Linked DNA regions of Homo sapiens. The protein of the gene in region 1 purifies or fractionates together with the protein of each later gene. This does not show direct contact. Each region holds a gene or a part of one and is shown on either strand. Other genes may lie near its edges.

What was found. The genes of interacting proteins can lie anywhere in the genome.
Region 2: the proteins of C1QTNF7 (region 1) and SULF2 purify together in Homo sapiens (affinity purification with mass spectrometry; one large-scale study listed by BioGRID and IntAct). This does not show direct contact.
Region 3: the proteins of C1QTNF7 (region 1) and MAN2A1 purify together in Homo sapiens (affinity purification with mass spectrometry; one large-scale study listed by BioGRID and IntAct). This does not show direct contact.
Region 4: the proteins of C1QTNF7 (region 1) and NDNF purify together in Homo sapiens (affinity purification with mass spectrometry; one large-scale study listed by BioGRID and IntAct). This does not show direct contact.

Annotation. Positions count from the first base shown.
Region 1 is NC_000004.12:15,429,978-15,435,228, forward strand, and holds part of C1QTNF7 (complement C1q tumor necrosis factor-related protein 7 isoform b precursor), read left to right. Parts: intron 1-5,251.
Region 2 is NC_000020.11:47,656,836-47,661,056, reverse strand, and holds the end of SULF2 (extracellular sulfatase Sulf-2 isoform a precursor), read left to right. Parts: intron 1-1,326; coding exon 1,327-1,360; intron 1,361-1,604; coding exon 1,605-1,658; intron 1,659-2,664; coding exon 2,665-2,695; 3' UTR 2,696-3,651; downstream 3,652-4,221. UniProt on the Homo sapiens protein: Exhibits arylsulfatase activity and highly specific endoglucosamine-6-sulfatase activity. It can remove sulfate from the C-6 position of glucosamine within specific subregions of intact heparin.
Region 3 is NC_000005.10:109,692,064-109,696,496, forward strand, and holds part of MAN2A1 (alpha-mannosidase 2), read left to right. Parts: intron 1-4,433. UniProt on the Homo sapiens protein: Catalyzes the first committed step in the biosynthesis of complex N-glycans. It controls conversion of high mannose to complex N-glycans; the final hydrolytic step in the N-glycan maturation pathway.
Region 4 is NC_000004.12:121,065,966-121,070,398, reverse strand, and holds part of NDNF (protein NDNF precursor), read left to right. Parts: intron 1-4,433. UniProt on the Homo sapiens protein: Secretory protein that plays a role in various cellular processes. Acts as a chemorepellent acting on gonadotropin-releasing hormone (GnRH) expressing neurons regulating their migration to the hypothalamus.

The DNA.
Region 1 (5,251 bases):
TCAATCTATGAACATGTTTTCCAGGATTTCAATCTTTGTACTGAGTTAATCAGTATTTCTCCAAGTATTTTCCATGGCTAGTTTAGCGAGAACAAAGGGCTCCATGACTAAATAAATTCACAAAATACTATATACAACATTTCTGCCTCAAATATAAGCACATGAACATGGAGCCTCTTGAATCTAAACTAACACAAATTAAATTTTTTAAATGTGTTTTAAAAACAAAAACCTGTTACTTTGTAATCCCTACAGAAAAATAGGATGGAGGATTATTTATAATTAGCATCCAGGACAGACGTGTTCAAGATTAACAGTATTTCCAGGTTGGGCGTGGCAGCTCACTCTTGAAACCCCAGCACTTTGGGAGGGCGAGGTGGGCAGATCGCTTGAGTTTAGGAGTTCAAGACCAACCTGGGTAACTTGGTGAAACCTCATCTCTCTAAAAAATACAAAAGTTAGCCAGGTGTGGTGGCACACACTTGTAGTCCCAGCTACTCATGAATTCAATTCAATGTTTTAAAGCATATTGTATGTGGAGTGACAGCTAAGGGGTACAGGTTTCTTTTTGGAGTTTTAAAATAGTCTTTAATTGGATTGTGATGTACATTAAGTTGTACACTTTGGTAAATTTTATGGTGTGCAAATTATATCCTTATAAAGCTGTTAAAAATTATTGTAATGTTTATGAAATTGTGACCTACGTGATTTATTCCCAGTCAAAATAATCAAGTTCACTGCAAGGCAGTGGGGGAGTGGGTAAAGAGTGGATTATTCAATAAAAGGAGTTGAAAATATAAAGTTATATCCCTACCTCACACTTTTTATCAGAAACATTCTGATGGAACAAATTTTTAAATGTGAAAAAATGAAACAAAAAAATTGAAAGAAAAGCACAAGGATTCTTTTCAGGACCTTAAAGTGGTGAAGGCCTTCTAAACCCAATAAATTGAACCTCAAAAAATATTTTCATGGTAAAAATATTTTAAAATACATGAGGAAAGACAAAGGACAAACTGGGGGAAATTATTTGCTGCTCATGTCATAAGCCATTTGTAGATTAAGATAGATAGATGATAGATAGATAGATAGATAGATAGATAGATAGATAGATAGATAGATAGATAGATTCATTGCACCATTGCTTATAACAGCAAAAGAAAGAAAATAGTCCAAATACCCATCATAGGAAACTGGTTAAATATTACAAACACATCTATATGATGGATTTTTTTAGCCACTAAATAAAAAAGGACAAGACAGCTCTACACATATAGGTGTCAATACAGAAGCTATAAATACTCATATGGAAACTAAGTGAAAAGGCAACGTACAGAACATTGTATATGGGATGCCAACATGGGGAAGGAGGACACTCAAGAAACTCGCACAGGTGATCAGCTCTAGGGAGGGAACCTGGGTATCCAGAAGACTCAAAGGGAGGTGAAGAAATTGACTTATCGTTGCATACTCTTTTTTCTTTTGAATTTTATGAAATGTACATGTATTCCCTATATAAAAAATTAATTTTAAAATATTTTTAAACACCCTAGACTATGTCAAATTAAAACAACTCAAGTTTTGTATTTGTATTTCTCAAACACTGCAAAAAGGACACATAGGCTCCAGGGAGATTTCTTCAAACCCCACCTCCCTCTTTCTTGTGTAATATTCTCATATTTCATAATTTCTCACCAGTTTTTTTCCCCCACAAAGCTCAAACCTCCCCACAAAATTCTCCTCTTTCTCCAGCCATGTTTTTTGGGTTAAGCCCTGCTGTAAGTGGTTGGACACATCAATGACTTCAACAAAGATCCCTGCCCTCATGTAGCTTACATTCTATCAGGAAAAATATAGATATAAAATAAAGATAGGAATTAGCTACTGAGTTAGAAGTGAAAAGTACAATAAAGAATAGAAAAAATGTAGAGCAGATAAAAGGAAGGTCATGGGCAGAAGAAGGCAGATTGCAGTGTTAAGCACGGTGATAAGGGTTGAACTTAGTGACAAGATGCCATTTGAGCAACGATGTGAAGAGGGAGATGAAGAAGTAGCTATATAGACATCTTGGTGAAGAGGGATTTAGACAATGCGAAGAGACACGTGAGACCCTAAGGCAGGGCACACCTAGTGTCTTTGAGGAGCACCAAGGAATCCAGTGTGACTGGAGCTGACAATGTGAGGAGAATAGAAGATGAAGTCAGGGAAATAAGGAGGGCCTTGTAGACCATCGCACCATGTAACATGAAGCTTTGGGCCCTTAGGTGCAATGAAGAACCAAACAGCGTGATCCCACTGTGATTTTTCCATTATAATGCACACCCCGTGGTCTTCTTGCATCAACTGAATCCCAGTACTTGACTGACCAGTCACCATCGTGCCACTAGCATGCATCAGGCACCACAACACATTGTTCCTCAATTCTTTTTGTTTTTTGAGACAGGGTCTGGCTCTGTTGCTCAGGCTGGAGTGCAGCAACACAATCTCTGCTCACTGCAACTTCCACCTCCAGGGTTCAAGTGATTCTCCTGCCTCAGCCTCTCGAGTAGCTGGAATTACAGGTGCACGCCACCATGCAGGGCTACTTTTTGTATTTTTAGTAGAGATGGGTTTCACCATATTGGCCAGGCTAATCTTGAACTCTTGACTTCAAGTGATCCTCCAACCTTGGCCACCCAAAGTGCTGGGAATACAGGCGTGAGCCATCGTGCCCAGCCTGTTCCTCAATTCTGATAAGGATTTTTACGGAATAATCACTTTGAGTGCCTTTTTTAAAGTTTTAATTGGGAATGCTTGAAGCATTTAGACTCCTATACAGGCAGTAGTATTCTTCCGCACTTGTCATAAAAGCAATCTATTTATTCAATGAATAAATCTGTTTACATTGTTTTAATTTATTCCTTGAGTTCCTTTTTGCCTGGCTATTGGCAATACTGAATATCGTTTCTTCCAATCACATCTTTAAAATTTCTGCTTCCTTTGCCCACCATCAACTAGACCCTTACCACATTCTTCTTCACAGACTGTTCCTGTGACTATTGGCATAGTTAGGCTTTCACACCTGCATCACCATGTCTGAGAAGCCACTGTCCAAATCAACTTCTCTGCAGTTGCTTTCAGGTCCCTCCTGAAAGCAACTCTGGCCTCAGCCAATAGCCTTGCACCCCATGTCTAGTTAAAAGCCTCATTATGACTATCTTCTATGAACCTTTATTTTTTTGGTAGAGATGGGGTCTTGCTATGTTGCCCAGGCTCCTCTCAAATTCCTGGGCTCAAGTAATCCTTCCACCTCAGCCTCCCAATACACTGGGATTACAGACGTGAGCCACCACACCCAGCCTTTTTTTTCTGGGGAGGGGGGTGACTTTATTGCTGTCCTGCTCCATCACCACAGCAAAATGGGCCCTGCACGCTCCAGGCCTGCATCATGTATCACCACAGCAAAAACATGACCTACTTGAACACGTTCCCTCCCAGGATATGTATTAAAATTCTTTAAAGAAAACAGAATAGATTAATAACTTAAGTGATTAGGCACCAACAGCAATTTGAAAAATTAAATGTCCATTTTAAATGGTAACAAGACAAGAACTTAAGATTGGGTTTACTCTAGCCCATCTTCTCTTCCTGTCAAATAGCAACAATTCTGTGGGAAATGATTCTAAATTTCAACACACAAGTAGCAGACAAATAAGTGAGAACACATATCACCAGAAATCACAGGACAGCCTGAATCTCCAGGCGGCCTCCTCGGCAGGTAGCCCATCGTGATTCCAGGCCCCAAAGAGCTTGGCAAGTCCCAGAAAGGTGGCCCCCTGAGGAAGGGCTTTAAAGCTCCTGAGATCAGACTTGCTTCCCCCACATTTTAAAGATGAAGTCCCAGACAGGGCCACTTTCTCATTCCTTCTCAAAGCCTCCTCTAATCAGCCTTTCACAACGGAGAGAGAACTGCTAATTTAATCAATGCATCTTGTTCTTACTGTGGCAGGGGGTGTGAACAGAATGTTCTTTCCATATATTTTTTTTTCATCTGAAGCTCCTTTGGAAGGCCTGTATTGAATGCACTGGGCTTGTCAGAAAGTGCCTTAATTCCAGTTGAGCAATAGAATCAATAATTTTGGATTTGTGCTGTATGACAAGGGCATACAAAAATGTCTACCAGACAGGGCATGGCAAAAATGTTCTCCTTGCTTTTTTTTTTTCAACTAGTAACACCAAGATTTAGTCAAAGTTACAGAGCCTGAGTTCGGATAAGTTGCTTTGGTTTTTCACTAATAAGATTTCTAGGAATCAGCTTACTTCAAAATCACATGTGCACACTGTGTTTTTCTTAGTTTGTCATTCCTACGCTCTGGCAATTTTCTGGGTCTAATTCCAAGATGTTGCAATTTCCCCATGGGTACCACAAAAGTGGTGATGTGTGCCTGGTCAATTTTCTCACATGGCTGTCAAAAAACAAAAGAAATTTCATCTGATTGCTTTCCCCACATTTTGTGATGATTTCCTTTGGGAGAGTATACACCAGGTCAAGCACTATATAGATTTCTTGTTAAAGCATGGGTCCAACCATCCAAACACAACTCATTTGCATGACCCCAGAACCACCTGTATATGTTCTTCCCTTTAAAAAACTGCTAATACTAAGGACCATTTAGCCTAAAAAATCAGGTATCTCCAATCTATACCACTCTCCATCTCACCTTCAGCCTATATGCCAAAGTGCCATACTAATAAATGACTCATCATTCTGAGCTTCTAGGCTTTATGGGGGAGTCCTATTAGATCAGAATTGAAGAGACCTGCTGCCTGCTTCACTTGGGGCACAGGCACCATGCGTGGCTTAATTTCACACAGCTCTTTAATTGAGCCCCAGTGCTAACAGCTTAATGGGACACCACGACATTATATCCTGCAGATTTTAAATTAAAGTTTGAGACCTCCCCTCAGGACATGCACAGTACCCCAATTAACACTAATTGGCATTATACATGATTACCAAGTGAAAACCATGGTTTTCCTGAAAATGCCTCCTCTTTTCTCCAGCTTTAAATAGTCCATAAATTCTAAGAAAACAATCATGGGTGCATGCAAAGATTAGCTAGAATGATGTCTAGCATGATGTTCATATTGGGAGAACTTTGGAAGCAACCTAAATATCTATAATGGGGGTTCTGTACATAAAAGATAGTAGAGACAAAAGCAATTATTTTTTAATGTCACACATAATTTTGACATGAGAAGGTGTTCATGA
Region 2 (4,221 bases), on another chromosome or scaffold:
CCTGGGCACCGACATTTGCTAGGTGGAGAATGGGACTTTATGGGAGAAAACAGCGAAGATGGCCCAGTTATCCAGGGAGAAATGGTGGTGGCTTGGACTAGAGGTGGGAGCAGTAAAGATGATGGATTTCAGATTCAGGTGGTGAAGCCCCCAGACAACATGGTGATGGGAGGTGCGGGATTAGGAGTCCCAGGTAAATCCTGAGTTTTGTTTGGGACAGGACAAAATCTGCAGTTTTAAGTTTAGAATGCCAACCAGATAGATATTTTAAGATGAAAAAAGCTAAACAGGCATGGTTGCTCATGCCTATGATTCCAGGGCTTTGGAAGGCTGAGGTGGGAGGAGACTTGAGCCCAGGAGTTCAAGGTTACAGTGAGCTATGATAGCACCACTGCACTCCAGCCTGGGAGACAGAGCTGTCGCCCCATCTCTAAAAATAAAAAAAATATATTAAAAAAAGAAAACAAAGCTAAAAGAAAAATGAAGTTCACTTACTAGTGAGAGAGAGTGGCCTAAAAAAAACCTTTGGTATTTAAGGTCCCTTGGGGAAGGGACTGTGTCTAGGAGGATGCCTAGAGTTCATGTCAGGAAAATGGCTACACAGCTTAGGAGGAATTCAGACGCTACCGTCGGCTCTAGTTATGAAGAGGGAAGAGCTAATGTGTTTACACAAGATGTTGCACTAATACTTCTGGTCAGGAGCCTGATATGATCAGAATTTTCACTAGTAGCTTCCTAATCTCTGCCACTCAAGTGCTGCTACTCTTGTGATCAAAGTGCAATGACATATTAGTCACTGTGTGCCAGGCTCTGTGCTGAGCATTTTACATGTGTTAGCTGATAAGCTTTGAGGTGAATCTTATCCTCATTTTATGGAGGAGTAAGGTGAACAAGGTGGGCTGACCCCGGAGCCCACGCACTTGATCCTGCCACATCCTCGGGAAAACTTCCCCAGAGCCCAAAGGGGAACTCCCTCCTGCACTTGGTCAGGGCTCTTGGCTTTCTGTCCTCTGGAGCACAGATGTTCATGCCTGCATCTACCTCCCTCACCATAACTAAGGTCAGCGCTGAATGAAGCCATCAGGGTCCTGAAACTGATCATGGTGACACTGGATTTTAGGCAATCTACAAGGCTATCTAGGAGACTTAGGGCAGGTTCCCCTCATAATTCAGTCTACCCCTCATAATTCAGTCTACTCTGAGTAGGGAACACTATCAGCATCATGGGATTGTGACAAAAAAGCATAAGATGGTTTTCTGGTGTGTTGGGGTTGTTTTGCCTAAACTATCTGCTCCTGTTTTGTTTTTCATTTCTCCTTCATTTAGGACTTAAAGATGGAGGAAGCTATGAGCAATACAGGTATTTCGTTTTATTATTAAAGCCTAAACAAAGTTCTCCTATCTTGGCCCATCCTTCAGTCTCATCTCTGTGAGTCTGCACCTGTTATCTTGAGAAACTGCCCTTCCCTCTGGTCTGCCCGAGACCAGGATCACCCACCAAAGATAGGTGTCACCTAGGAGACCTTCTTTGTATAGTTCTTTGGGGACTTTTTCTTTCTTGGTGATGGTTAACATTCATTCTCCTTTGACACTTGAAAACTTAGGCAGTTTCAGCGTCGAAAGTGGCCAGAAATGAAGAGACCTTCTTCCAAATCACTGTGAGTTGAGGAACCAGCTTACAAATAGAAATCTGGTTCTGACCGCTTCATTTTGCCAATGCTATTCTATTTGCATGCCATTTCTTACATACCACCCTTTGTTTGTTCTCATGATGAGGGTGGGGGGGAAGTACTAATGCACATCTTTCCCTAAGAAAACACTTGAATCCATTTCATGTTTTAGATTAATGCCTTGTCCAGTACACTGCTGTTCTCGCTATAATCTGTGCTTGGTAAACTTGAGCTATTACTTAGAGGTTGAGAAGCATTTAAATATTACAAATTGCTAGGCATCTTGAAGGCTGTGGCTACAAAAGTGCTAACTGATATACAACATCAGTAGTAGGATGGCCTCATTAAATGGTTTCCAAAAAGCCCATGCTACAAACTCTCACTCCAGTGCCATTGGAGGCTGACAGGGACTAAGAGACTGGCAACCTGTAAAGTTCACCTCTATTCTAAAGGGAGCAGGCCAGTTTGCTCCCTGCAGGAATGGGCTGAGGTTCGCCAGATTTTCTCATTCGTCTACCAAATCCAAAAATGCAAGTATGTGTGAGAATTCTTTATCATTATCATCTAATTTGACATTAAGTTAACCATGTGGGCAAATTATCGCCCTTGGTGAACTGCCACTTGCAACCTCTGGTCTACTCATTTCTTCCTTTATATGCATATAAACCTGTGTGGCTTTAATAGGACATTAGTAACAGGTCACCTAAGCCTTTCTTCGGTGCTTCTAGAATTAAGGTACAGAATCTTTACATATCACAATCTCCTTAGCCACTATTCTGTCCAGATCCTTAAATGCCATCCTTGCCAGGCATTGGGTGTATAAGTAAACAAAAAATTGAGGTGACTAGGTGGTGGCAATCCCGTTCTAAGTAACCTAGAAATATTCATTCTCAGCAGCCTTGAAGCAAAGCTTCCTCAGCTATAGGACCGATTAGGAAGTCATGATAAAGACCATGATAGCTAAGTGCTAAGATGAGTTTGTTTTGTTCTTTAGGGGACAACTGTGGGAAGGCTGGGAAGGTTAAGAAACAACAGAGGTGGACCTCCAAAAACATAGAGGCATCACCTGACTGCACAGGCAATGAAAAACCATGTGGGTGATTTCCAGCAGACCTGTGGTATTGGCCAGGAGGCCTGAGAAAGCAAGCACGCACTCTCAGTCAACATGACAGATTCTGGAGGATAACCAGCAGGAGCAGAGATAACTTCAGGAAGTCCATTTTTGCCCCTGCTTTTGCTTTGGATTATACCTCACCAGCTGCACAAAATGCATTTTTTCGTATCAAAAAGTCACCACTAACCCTCCCCCAGAAGCTCACAAAGGAAAACGGAGAGAGCGAGCGAGAGAGATTTCCTTGGAAATTTCTCCCAAGGGCGAAAGTCATTGGAATTTTTAAATCATAGGGGAAAAGCAGTCCTGTTCTAAATCCTCTTATTCTTTTGGTTTGTCACAAAGAAGGAACTAAGAAGCAGGACAGAGGCAACGTGGAGAGGCTGAAAACAGTGCAGAGACGTTTGACAATGAGTCAGTAGCACAAAAGAGATGACATTTACCTAGCACTATAAACCCTGGTTGCCTCTGAAGAAACTGCCTTCATTGTATATATGTGACTATTTACATGTAATCAACATGGGAACTTTTAGGGGAACCTAATAAGAAATCCCAATTTTCAGGAGTGGTGGTGTCAATAAACGCTCTGTGGCCAGTGTAAAAGAAAATCCCTCGCAGTTGTGGACATTTCTGTTCCTGTCCAGATACCATTTCTCCTAGTATTTCTTTGTTATGTCCCAGAACTGATGTTTTTTTTTTAAGGTACTGAAAAGAAATGAAGTTGATGTATGTCCCAAGTTTTGATGAAACTGTATTTGTAAAAAAAATTTTGTAGTTTAAGTATTGTCATACAGTGTTCAAAACCCCAGCCAATGACCAGCAGTTGGTATGAAGAACCTTTGACATTTTGTAAAAGGCCATTTCTTGGGAGTTTTTTGGTGTGTCTGTTTTTTTAAAGTATTCAAGATACTACCAGTCAACATCTTTTTGGAAGAAAATGCCTTGGGTTTAGAAGATTTTCTTAAAAGGGGAGTAGATGGTTGTAGATTGACTAAAAAGTCTACCATACTTCAAGGGACTACAGGTAAGTCTCATAGTATACCAGCTTTGGTACTTCATTTTTTAAAAAAGTATTAATCAATTGCAAAGAAATTCGCCTTGGCCAACCCTTCTTTGTGTATCAGGTAGTCTAACCTGATACAAGTAGTTGACAGATTTCAACTATCAATCACCAGTCCAACCCATTTCTCATTTAACAGATGACGGAGATAATCCCTAAAAGCACCCACATTTGTTTCAATGCCCCAAACAGGCCAAGGCTCCCTAGCAACTCCCTAGTGGCGTTTTTTAACTTCTCAGAAACTGTTACCATTATTTGAAATAGGCTTCCTTAACCTCCTTTACCCTTAACCCAACAGGGATTTAAAAAAAAAAAAAAAAAAAAAAAACTCTTTAGGCTCCAATTTTAAATAGAAACCTTTATTTACAATGACATCCAAA
Region 3 (4,433 bases), on another chromosome or scaffold:
TTGGCTTTGGCTTGATGATCACTTGAAAATGGTTTATGCAAACATCTGGACCTGGGTTTTCTGGCAACCTTGACATTTTCTCTGTTCAGAATCTAAAGACATGAGTGACTCATTCAGTTACTGAGAAATCTTAGGCAAAGCTAATTCCAGTATTGTAATATCTATCCTTAGTCCTCAATGAGAGGCTGAAGTTCTGCTTTAAGCGTAAAGCATTTGATGAAAGGTCAAAGTGGCTGCTGGAGGGGAAGGCTGTTGGTACTCAACTGGGAGGTGGAACATTTTGCATTTAAGATTGCCTTTCTCAGATTTTCTGTACTGGATTTTCACTGCAGAAAGAAGGTATTCTTTAAGTGCTTGGACGGCCACTGAATCCTCAAGCAGATAGACATTCTAAGACCCCTCTGTAAGCTTAACCGTTATGTGTGTGACATTAGCCTTCGTATCTTACAGGGTAAAACTTAAGTGGCGAGGGGACTGAGGCACTGAGGCACGGAGAGATTAATTAGCTTGCCCAAGATCACACAGCTGCAAGCTGAGATTTGAACAGGTAGCCTTTGTAGCCCAGGCTCCCAGCCACTGAGTTGTCTTGCCTCTTAGGAATCTGTTGCCTACTGTTTAGGCTGCCATTTGCTTATGGAAAGATCTGATGTAAAATATAGAGCAGTGATCCTCAACCTTTTTGGTACCAGGGACTGGTTTCCTGGAAGACAGTTTTTCCACAGACAGGGGTGGGGATGGGGGGAGTCGGGGGTTTCGGGGGATGGTTTGGGGATGAAGCTGTTCCACCTCAGATCATCAGGCGTTAGATTCTCATAAGGACCATGCAGCCTAGATCCCTGGCATGCGCAGTTCACAATAAGGTTCGTGCTCCTATGAGAATCTAATGCTGCTGCTGATCTGACAGGAGGTGGAGCTCAGGCGGTAATGCTTGCTGACCTGCTATGCCACTCACCTCCTGCTGTGTGGCCTGGTTCCTAACAGGTCCATGGCCCTGGGGTTGGTTGCCCCCTGTATAGAGCATGTTGCTCTCTGGTACCTTAGCTTATGACTAAAGGAACTTTTATTTTGAAGCCATAATGAATATGGTCCTTTTTCTGAAACATTTACTGCTAGAGATTTATACCCTTCCCAGAATGTCTTTGAGCTCATTTCAGAGCTAAACATTATAATGAAAACCATTGTGTAGTCCAGCATCCAGAACTTGAGTTGATTCTTTTTTTTTTCACTGCTTCTAACTTATTCTTAATAATACCAAACATAGCAAAAGGAGGTTGCAATACATTTGTTTGGCAAGTTTGGGTATTGAATTCTTGAGTTTTAGTAGAGCCAAGCAGGTCGGTCACTATGTGTCATTTTTTGGTATCTAGTAGAACGGTTTATTTAGATAGGTATTGGGTTCCTCTAAATTGCCCATTTAGTTGGTTTCAGTTGATACGGAACCTTCACTAGGCTTTAGGTCTATCTTGTAAACAAGATATTTTTAAAGACCATCCTAGATTGAGAGCAATCTATTTGTTGTTTTTTTGGAGAGCGGGGGTTTGTTCTTTTTCTCTTCTCTCACAACTCTGGTGTTTTCCACCATTTGGCTGGACTCTGGGGCAAGAGTGGGCTGGCCGAGGGTGCTCCAGTTTCTCTCACCCCGGAACAGCTGCCTGCCTCTAAGATATTCTTTGGAAGTCTATCCTGAAGCACTCCGAAGCCTTGCTTCTGCTTCTGGGAGGAATTCCTTGGAGGACTAGAGGCAACAGGGGGCCTAATCTGTTGAAACTTGTGTGTATATTTCAGGGTTAATAAATCTCAGCTAAGAAAATTAATAAAAATTCCACTGTGAATGAGAGGTTGGTCAGAGACTAATGTCTTGAAAATGCTTTATGATAACTTGGAAGAATTTGAGCAGATGGAAAGGAGAAACTTTGTTAAGGTCTCCCTGAAATTAGTCATCACTTCTTACAAGCAGATTTCACAAGGTGCTTACTATCTATGGTGTGTATAATAGGGTTGTCTTATTAATTAGTCTGATGTTTGGATCTGGAGAAGTAAATTAATGAGTCAGGTTTTGTATAACAAATGATCACTTTTTAAGTAATTAGTGTAGCATATGACCGTAGAGATTAATATTAACTCTTAAAATATGGAAATTGAGACTCCGATGGAAAATGTGAAAGTGAAGTTAAAACTTTATCTTTTTGCCTATGTAACATTTATCAAGTGAGAAAGTGAGAATGCCTTTAAATAAGCATTTGATTGAAAGCCATTAGAAGGTGAGAACTTGTATACCTTTTTTTTTTTTTCTTTGGGATAGGGTTTTGCTCTGTCATCCAGGCTGGAGTGCAGTGATGGAATCACAGCTTACTGCAGTGGCCTTGAATTCTTGGGCCCAAGCCATTCTCCCACCTCAGCCTTCTGAGTAGCTGGGACTACAGGTGTGTATGCCACTGTGCCCAGCCAGTTTTAAAATTTTTATTTTGTGGAGACGGGGTCTTACTATGTTGACCAACTGGTTTCAAATTCTTGGCCTTAAGCTATTCTCCTGCCTCAGCCTTCCAAAGTGCTGGGATTATAGGTGTGATTCACTGCTCCCAGTTGCCTTTTGTGTTTTTTTTTTTTAACTTACTGTAATACACATACAGAAATGTGCTTACATACTTTACATCAGTAGTACTTAAGAGTCCAGCATAGTAGATGTTATTAATGAAAGTTGACTCATGGCAATACATATAACTAGGACTTTGATTCCCCAGTTTTTTTCTTGCTTTCATAAATCTGTAAATCTTACTTAAGAATGACATATAAGGAAAATATGATCTCCTTCCCCTTCCTTGAGTGCAGTCTATTTATAAACAATAGCACTTGGTGCTGGGGTTTGTTCACGTTTGTATGAGGGAGATTGTCTTATTTTCTGGGATATAATGCGGAGATCTGTGCTTTTTGGGAAGTGATGGAACGTTGATAGTGCATCCAGCATTTAGGAATGCAAGAACAAACATTAGAGCCTTTTGAGGATGGTGTCCTCTAACTCCTCTTCAGTCCAACAGCCCTGTGGGTCTCTTCCTGATCAGCATTTTTCACTAAGACCCAAACTTATTTCCTGTAAACCAACTGGGCCAGATACTCATGACTGTCTGTGGTCTGAAGATAGTAGTTTATGTTTTGTTTTTTGTTTTTTTTAAATTGAATTGGGTGTGTTGTTCCCAGATGAACACTGTTATCAGGGCCTAAACAAATATTTTTGTCAGGGAGATGTCACAATTGTATTATTGGAAGGGGATTTTCTCTCTTAGCTTTTAATTTGCATTAAGAGGTGTCTGGGCTGTGGGCAAAATAGTGGCTAAAATGACCACTTTTATTTGTTTTTGAGTCAGCTATTGCTTTTTGTGATAACTGAAAACTTTAGTCTTTTTTGAAGGACTGAAGTGTTGAGAGTTTCCTGGAATGAGTGGTTCACTAGCTGTTGCTGATCACCTGGTTTATTCTTAGCTTTTTTTGCATTCAGGAGTCTTAGTTTTCCCTTGTTCTCCAACTTCTGTAATCTTTAAGAAAATGAAAGGATATTTAGCAGCTCTGATGACCTGTATTTGCTGGATTGTAAAGGCCTTATTGCATTTTTTATCCCTTCTGTCTTGGTAAAAGTTCCTGATAGCAGCAGCTTTTATAAAAGTTTGAGCAGAACTAAGGCAAGGAGGAAGAACTCTAAAATAGTGATTTTTGCTTCTCAGTTGTTATTAGTAGGTTAATCAGGAGAGGAAGTAGGACATTTTAACTAAAATGGGTTTCTGTTTCAGTTATCAAGCCAAGCTGCTATTTTTAAGTTTGAAACCATTTTTAAATTCAGACAGGTTTGAGGATTAATTGTACTGAAATGGAGCTCACATCTAGTGCTTTAGTGAGTATAGCTAAATGTGCCTATAATAGGGAGGAAGTAAATCATTTGGTTTGATGAACTCTGTCACTTGAGGTCATATCATAGCTTTTCTGAAAGAGTGCCCTGTTTAAGGTAATTATATTTTATGCAGACAGGTGGATAGTAGGTATCTAGTATATATCTTTTTTTTTTTTGAGACGGAGTCTCACTATGTTGGCAGACTGGAGTGCAGTGGTGCAATCTCAGCTCACTGCAATCTCCACCTCCCGGGTTCAAGCGATTCTCCTGCCTCAGCCTCCCGAGTAGCTGGGATTACAGGCACAAGCCACCATGCCCAGCTAATTTTTGTATTTTTAGTAGAGACGGGGTTTCACCATGTTGGCCAGGATGGTCTCGATCTCCTGATCTCGTGATCTGCCCGCCTTGACCTCCCAACATGTTGGGATTACAGGCGTGAGCCTCTGCGCCTGGTTGGTATCTCTTAAATATCTTAATGTTAAATTTCTAAATCTAACATACTGTTTTCTAAAGAAGAGAAAGTACTTTAGTTTAAAACTGGACATACTCTACC
Region 4 (4,433 bases), about 110 Mb from region 1:
CTCCCTGGGTTCGGAGAAGTAGAGATAAAACATCCCTCCCAAGGGAGCGGTTGCAGGGGATTTGATGGGATTGAATTGTTTTATTATCTTGAAAGAAGTGATGGATGGATCCGAGAGGGAATATGTATATAAAGCAGAGTGTAGTGAGGGCGATCGGTATGATTATTCATTATTGTTTGTTAAGAGTGATAATAAGGCCGCAACCTTCGCTCAGACTGTGTTTATACTGGGGTTTGAGTTTATGTCAGTCTCTTATTACAGTGGTTTCAGAAAGTGAAAACACCAAAACCGTATTAATTCTTCAGTCATTCTGCATATGGGATTAATCAAATGTCAAAAAAGATACTGTCGTTTTACCACAGTTTTAATCTATGATCTTTTAGAAGGTTGCACTCTTATAAAATGTCATTTGCCTCCATCTGTCTTCTTAAAGTTTAAAAAACTTGGCAACATAATTAATTATGGTCCCAATTCCCATTTTCAATCTAAACCTATATTCAGGATTATATTAAAATACCCCATCATTTATTCCTCAGAAGTGACTCTTATGAGTTTAAACTCTTGGAGGGGAGAGAGGGACAACTGGGAATGAGGGGCCTAGGAGTTAGATAAATTAGTACTATTTCAGATTTCTCTAAAAATTCCTTTACTTCTTCCTTTAGAGAAAGAAATTACAAGGTCCTTCTCTGCACAGTTCATCACTTCAGTGAATGCCCTTAATCTTTACCACACACTTGAAACATAACAGCTTGCAGCCTTGTCTGCATTATTGCTTTCATTTTTGTGTCAGGACATTTTATTCATTAAACCTGTATGTCAAAGACTTAGGCTTAGTGTGGCAGTAACACTCTGTTTTAATTAGTAACTATCATAAAAAAGAAGCTAGAACTCTGTAATAGGCCTAAATTGCTATGAATTATGTTTGGTTTAAATTACGCATTTATTTCAGCAGAAATGAAACCATGAATATAAAACATCTTTTAATCACTTGCAGATACAGCTTTTATCTCTTAGGATGTAACAAAATATGTAATTGAAAAATATCCTTCTAAGGACAAGAGAAGCCCCCACCCTCAGCTTATTTGTCCTGGGTCTGTTTAACATTCATATGGTGAAGTATGAATGTTAAAGAGTAAAGACTATTGTCACAACATTGCCAATACCAGGTCGATGGAATGCTACCTTGGAAATAGCCACAGTAGGTCAGTCGTCAGCTTAATGTAGAGACTTTTCTAGTTGGCTGCGTGAACCTTGTTGTTTCAGATTTTAGTTTTCTCACTTGGATTTATCGACCAGACTCTGTTGTGGAAGGGAGAAAAATGTATTTTAAAACTCTAACAAATTATTTGACATGAAGGGGAGAAAAGTAGAAATAAAGTGTATCTCTTCTCTTCCTATATTTATTTCTATAGCAATTCTCTTCAGCCTATCTAGAGGTCAGAATTTTTACTTTAAAACTGAATGTGTTTTTGTTGTCGTCGTTAGGACTTATCATTTTGGTATGATGGATGAGCAGATATTGGAAATGGAATAATGATGACTGAATCAACCGAGAGCATAGGAACAGAGTGTGAATTACACATCATATGTGCTAATTAAGATTATTTTAATCTCCTTTCCTTAGTTTCTCCATGATAAGGTGGTCGATAGTGACCAAGTAGTGCTCTCTCTCTCTCTCTCTGTCTCACTTTTTTGCTACCTGCCTTCTTGTCAGGTCTTGCTTTGGGGACCTATACACCTATAGTAGCAGCTGAACCTTGCCAGTCAGTGGCCATCAGCTAATCACTTGGAAGAAAATATGTCTCATAGTCATCTGTATTGGGTCAAAGGCAGGGATACCCAATATAACCAACAAAATAGTTCAACTAATTCATTTGACCCTGAAATAATATCTAGAACCTCTAAATGTTTATTTTAGAATGATTATTCTAAAGAACACAATTTATTCTTCCCCTGTGGGCTCATAATCATTTAATAGAAGCCACAGCGTGGTTGATAGTAAATAGTAAACCCCACAAAATCTTTGCTTTGAAAGCTGATTTTAAAATCAAATCCTCCAGGATTTAAATACTCTATTTTAAAATACTTTGCATTTTATTCCCTGAAGTTAGGATAAATTCTGCTGTATTTTTCCACTGTATTACAAATGTAACATTACGTGACACTCAGCATGCATGCAGTCAAGCTTCCATGTTAATTTCCTCCTAGAAAAAAAAAGTAAATACTTTGCTGCTGTTGTTAAAAAATAATCATGTAGTATGAGACAGAAAAACAAGAATGCTAATACTTTATTGTATCACATGGTGGTATGTTGACCATAAACTCAGTTATATTTTTGTTGAAAATCACACCATTTCAGTGTAAGTCTGTTTGCTTGGCTGTGTGTATTTCACGTATTTCTTGCCTCTTCTGAGATGACACCTGGCATTTGCTGTACCAGTGCCTAAGCCAGTGCCAAAAGCAGGTGTATCCTTGGCTGCTTCCTTCCTAAACACACAACCCAAAGAAGCAATATCCACACCTTTCCCCTTCCTTCTGGTACTTTACTAAAAACTGCAAACCAACAAACACATGAATTTTAGTCTTTTGAAATATTTGGAAAACATGTAATATATAATGTTAATTCCCCCAATAAAAAAAGTTGTGGCTTGTTTTGATTTTAAAAATTAAGGGTAACAAATTTGATCAATGTGGTATAAAAGCAAACTAGCAAAATGGTCTGTAGATTTTTCACTTTGGGATAAAGAGACAAATTTGGCCACAGAACAGCTGGGTATTTGGCCCTATTACAATGCCAATTTTTTTCAAGGAACTCATTGAGTTAACTTTGATTTAAACTTCACTTTAAAGTCCACAAACCTCAAGTTTATGAGAAAAGTATAGAAACTTTCAAGATATATGTCATCATTCTTTCAATAACTTCCATATCCTTTGGAAACTGATTTATTTTAGTAAGTTAGTTAATAGGTCTTGGTTTTCGCTTGTTAATTTTTTCTGTAACAAATTTGAACATGACACATTTAATATTTTATATATTTCTCTGAAGTATTTATTTTTAGCTTCACTTATGAAAACTCTAAAATGAATCTTTTCTTTAAAAAAATGTGGCTAGAGGTAGTAGTATAAATGTATAATTTATCAAATGTCTCTTTTAATTCTTCTTTTAAAATAATTTGCCGTCTTTTTTATAGTTAAAAGAAAAACTTTTTTAGGAATAATGGTAAGGTTATATAAAGTTTGGAGAGTACTCAATAAAAATATGATTACGCGTGATTGGGAATCAACTCATTTGAGTGGAACTCTTAGACACTGCCTCCACAGCGTGGAGACTTTTAAATATAAAAACCAAATTATAAAAACAATTCACAACATGCATGCACGTTTGCTTTCTAATTGGAATGATTTCAGCTAATATCACAAATAGTGGTGACCAGCTGAAGTAAATGGAGACTGTACAAGTTTCTGTCAGTGTTTCTTCTCTCTAAGCGGAAATCAAGGTAAACACCCTCTTCTTCCAGCTGTGTGCTCTGAGAACATATATTCCACAATCTAAAAACATAGCCAAAAATATGGACTATATTCAAATATGTGTTTTATCAACAACTGAAAATCACCATATCTTGTCTTCTGAGGCAATGCTGTTATATACACAGATGTAGATAGAATATGAGCCTGAAATTTAACATTTTCTAAAATAAGCAGTAAAATCTGAACTCATAATTAGACCTCTAAAATATGACATCTTGTTTTTGAAATCACCATGACTGTTTTTAAAATTTATAATGTAGGAACTATGAACAAATTGGTATATACAAGACAGACAATGCCCTATCCTGGCAGTTGGCAAACAAACTGTTGGCAGACAGTTAGGGGTAGTGTTGTGGTACTTACTTGAAAATACTATATTTAAGAGAGAAAAACCAGTATAATAGGGCCTGATTGATTTATTTAGGATTACTTTGTCCAATTTAGCTGTTACAAGTGTATGGTGACTTCTGGAGTGTAGATGGTTATAATTTATATATTAGAAATATATACTGCTGGATCCTGTAATTGAAGAGAGATTTGTTGCCAACAGTGGGACAGATCAGAAACACCAGCGCTAGCTAAGACACGTAGTAAACTGGGGAAAAACATCAGTCGTTTAACTCTGTGCCTCCCTGAGTCTCTGATATTGTTAGTTCTTCGGGTGCTATGAAAATATGTTACTTTTTATGGAAAAAGAAAACTGCCTCTTAAATGAGAGATAAACATTTAACACTCTAATGATAGCAATAGCAGGATTCACCATACTAATAGAACTAACAGATGGGTTACATGAGAGATGGCCTTAGAGGTACCAGGGAAGCCACCCTGCTCCCAGGGCCTCTCAGGGTACCAAAACACTACCTGAAAAAATATGCTTTTTTTTAACTTTTAAATTAATTTTATTT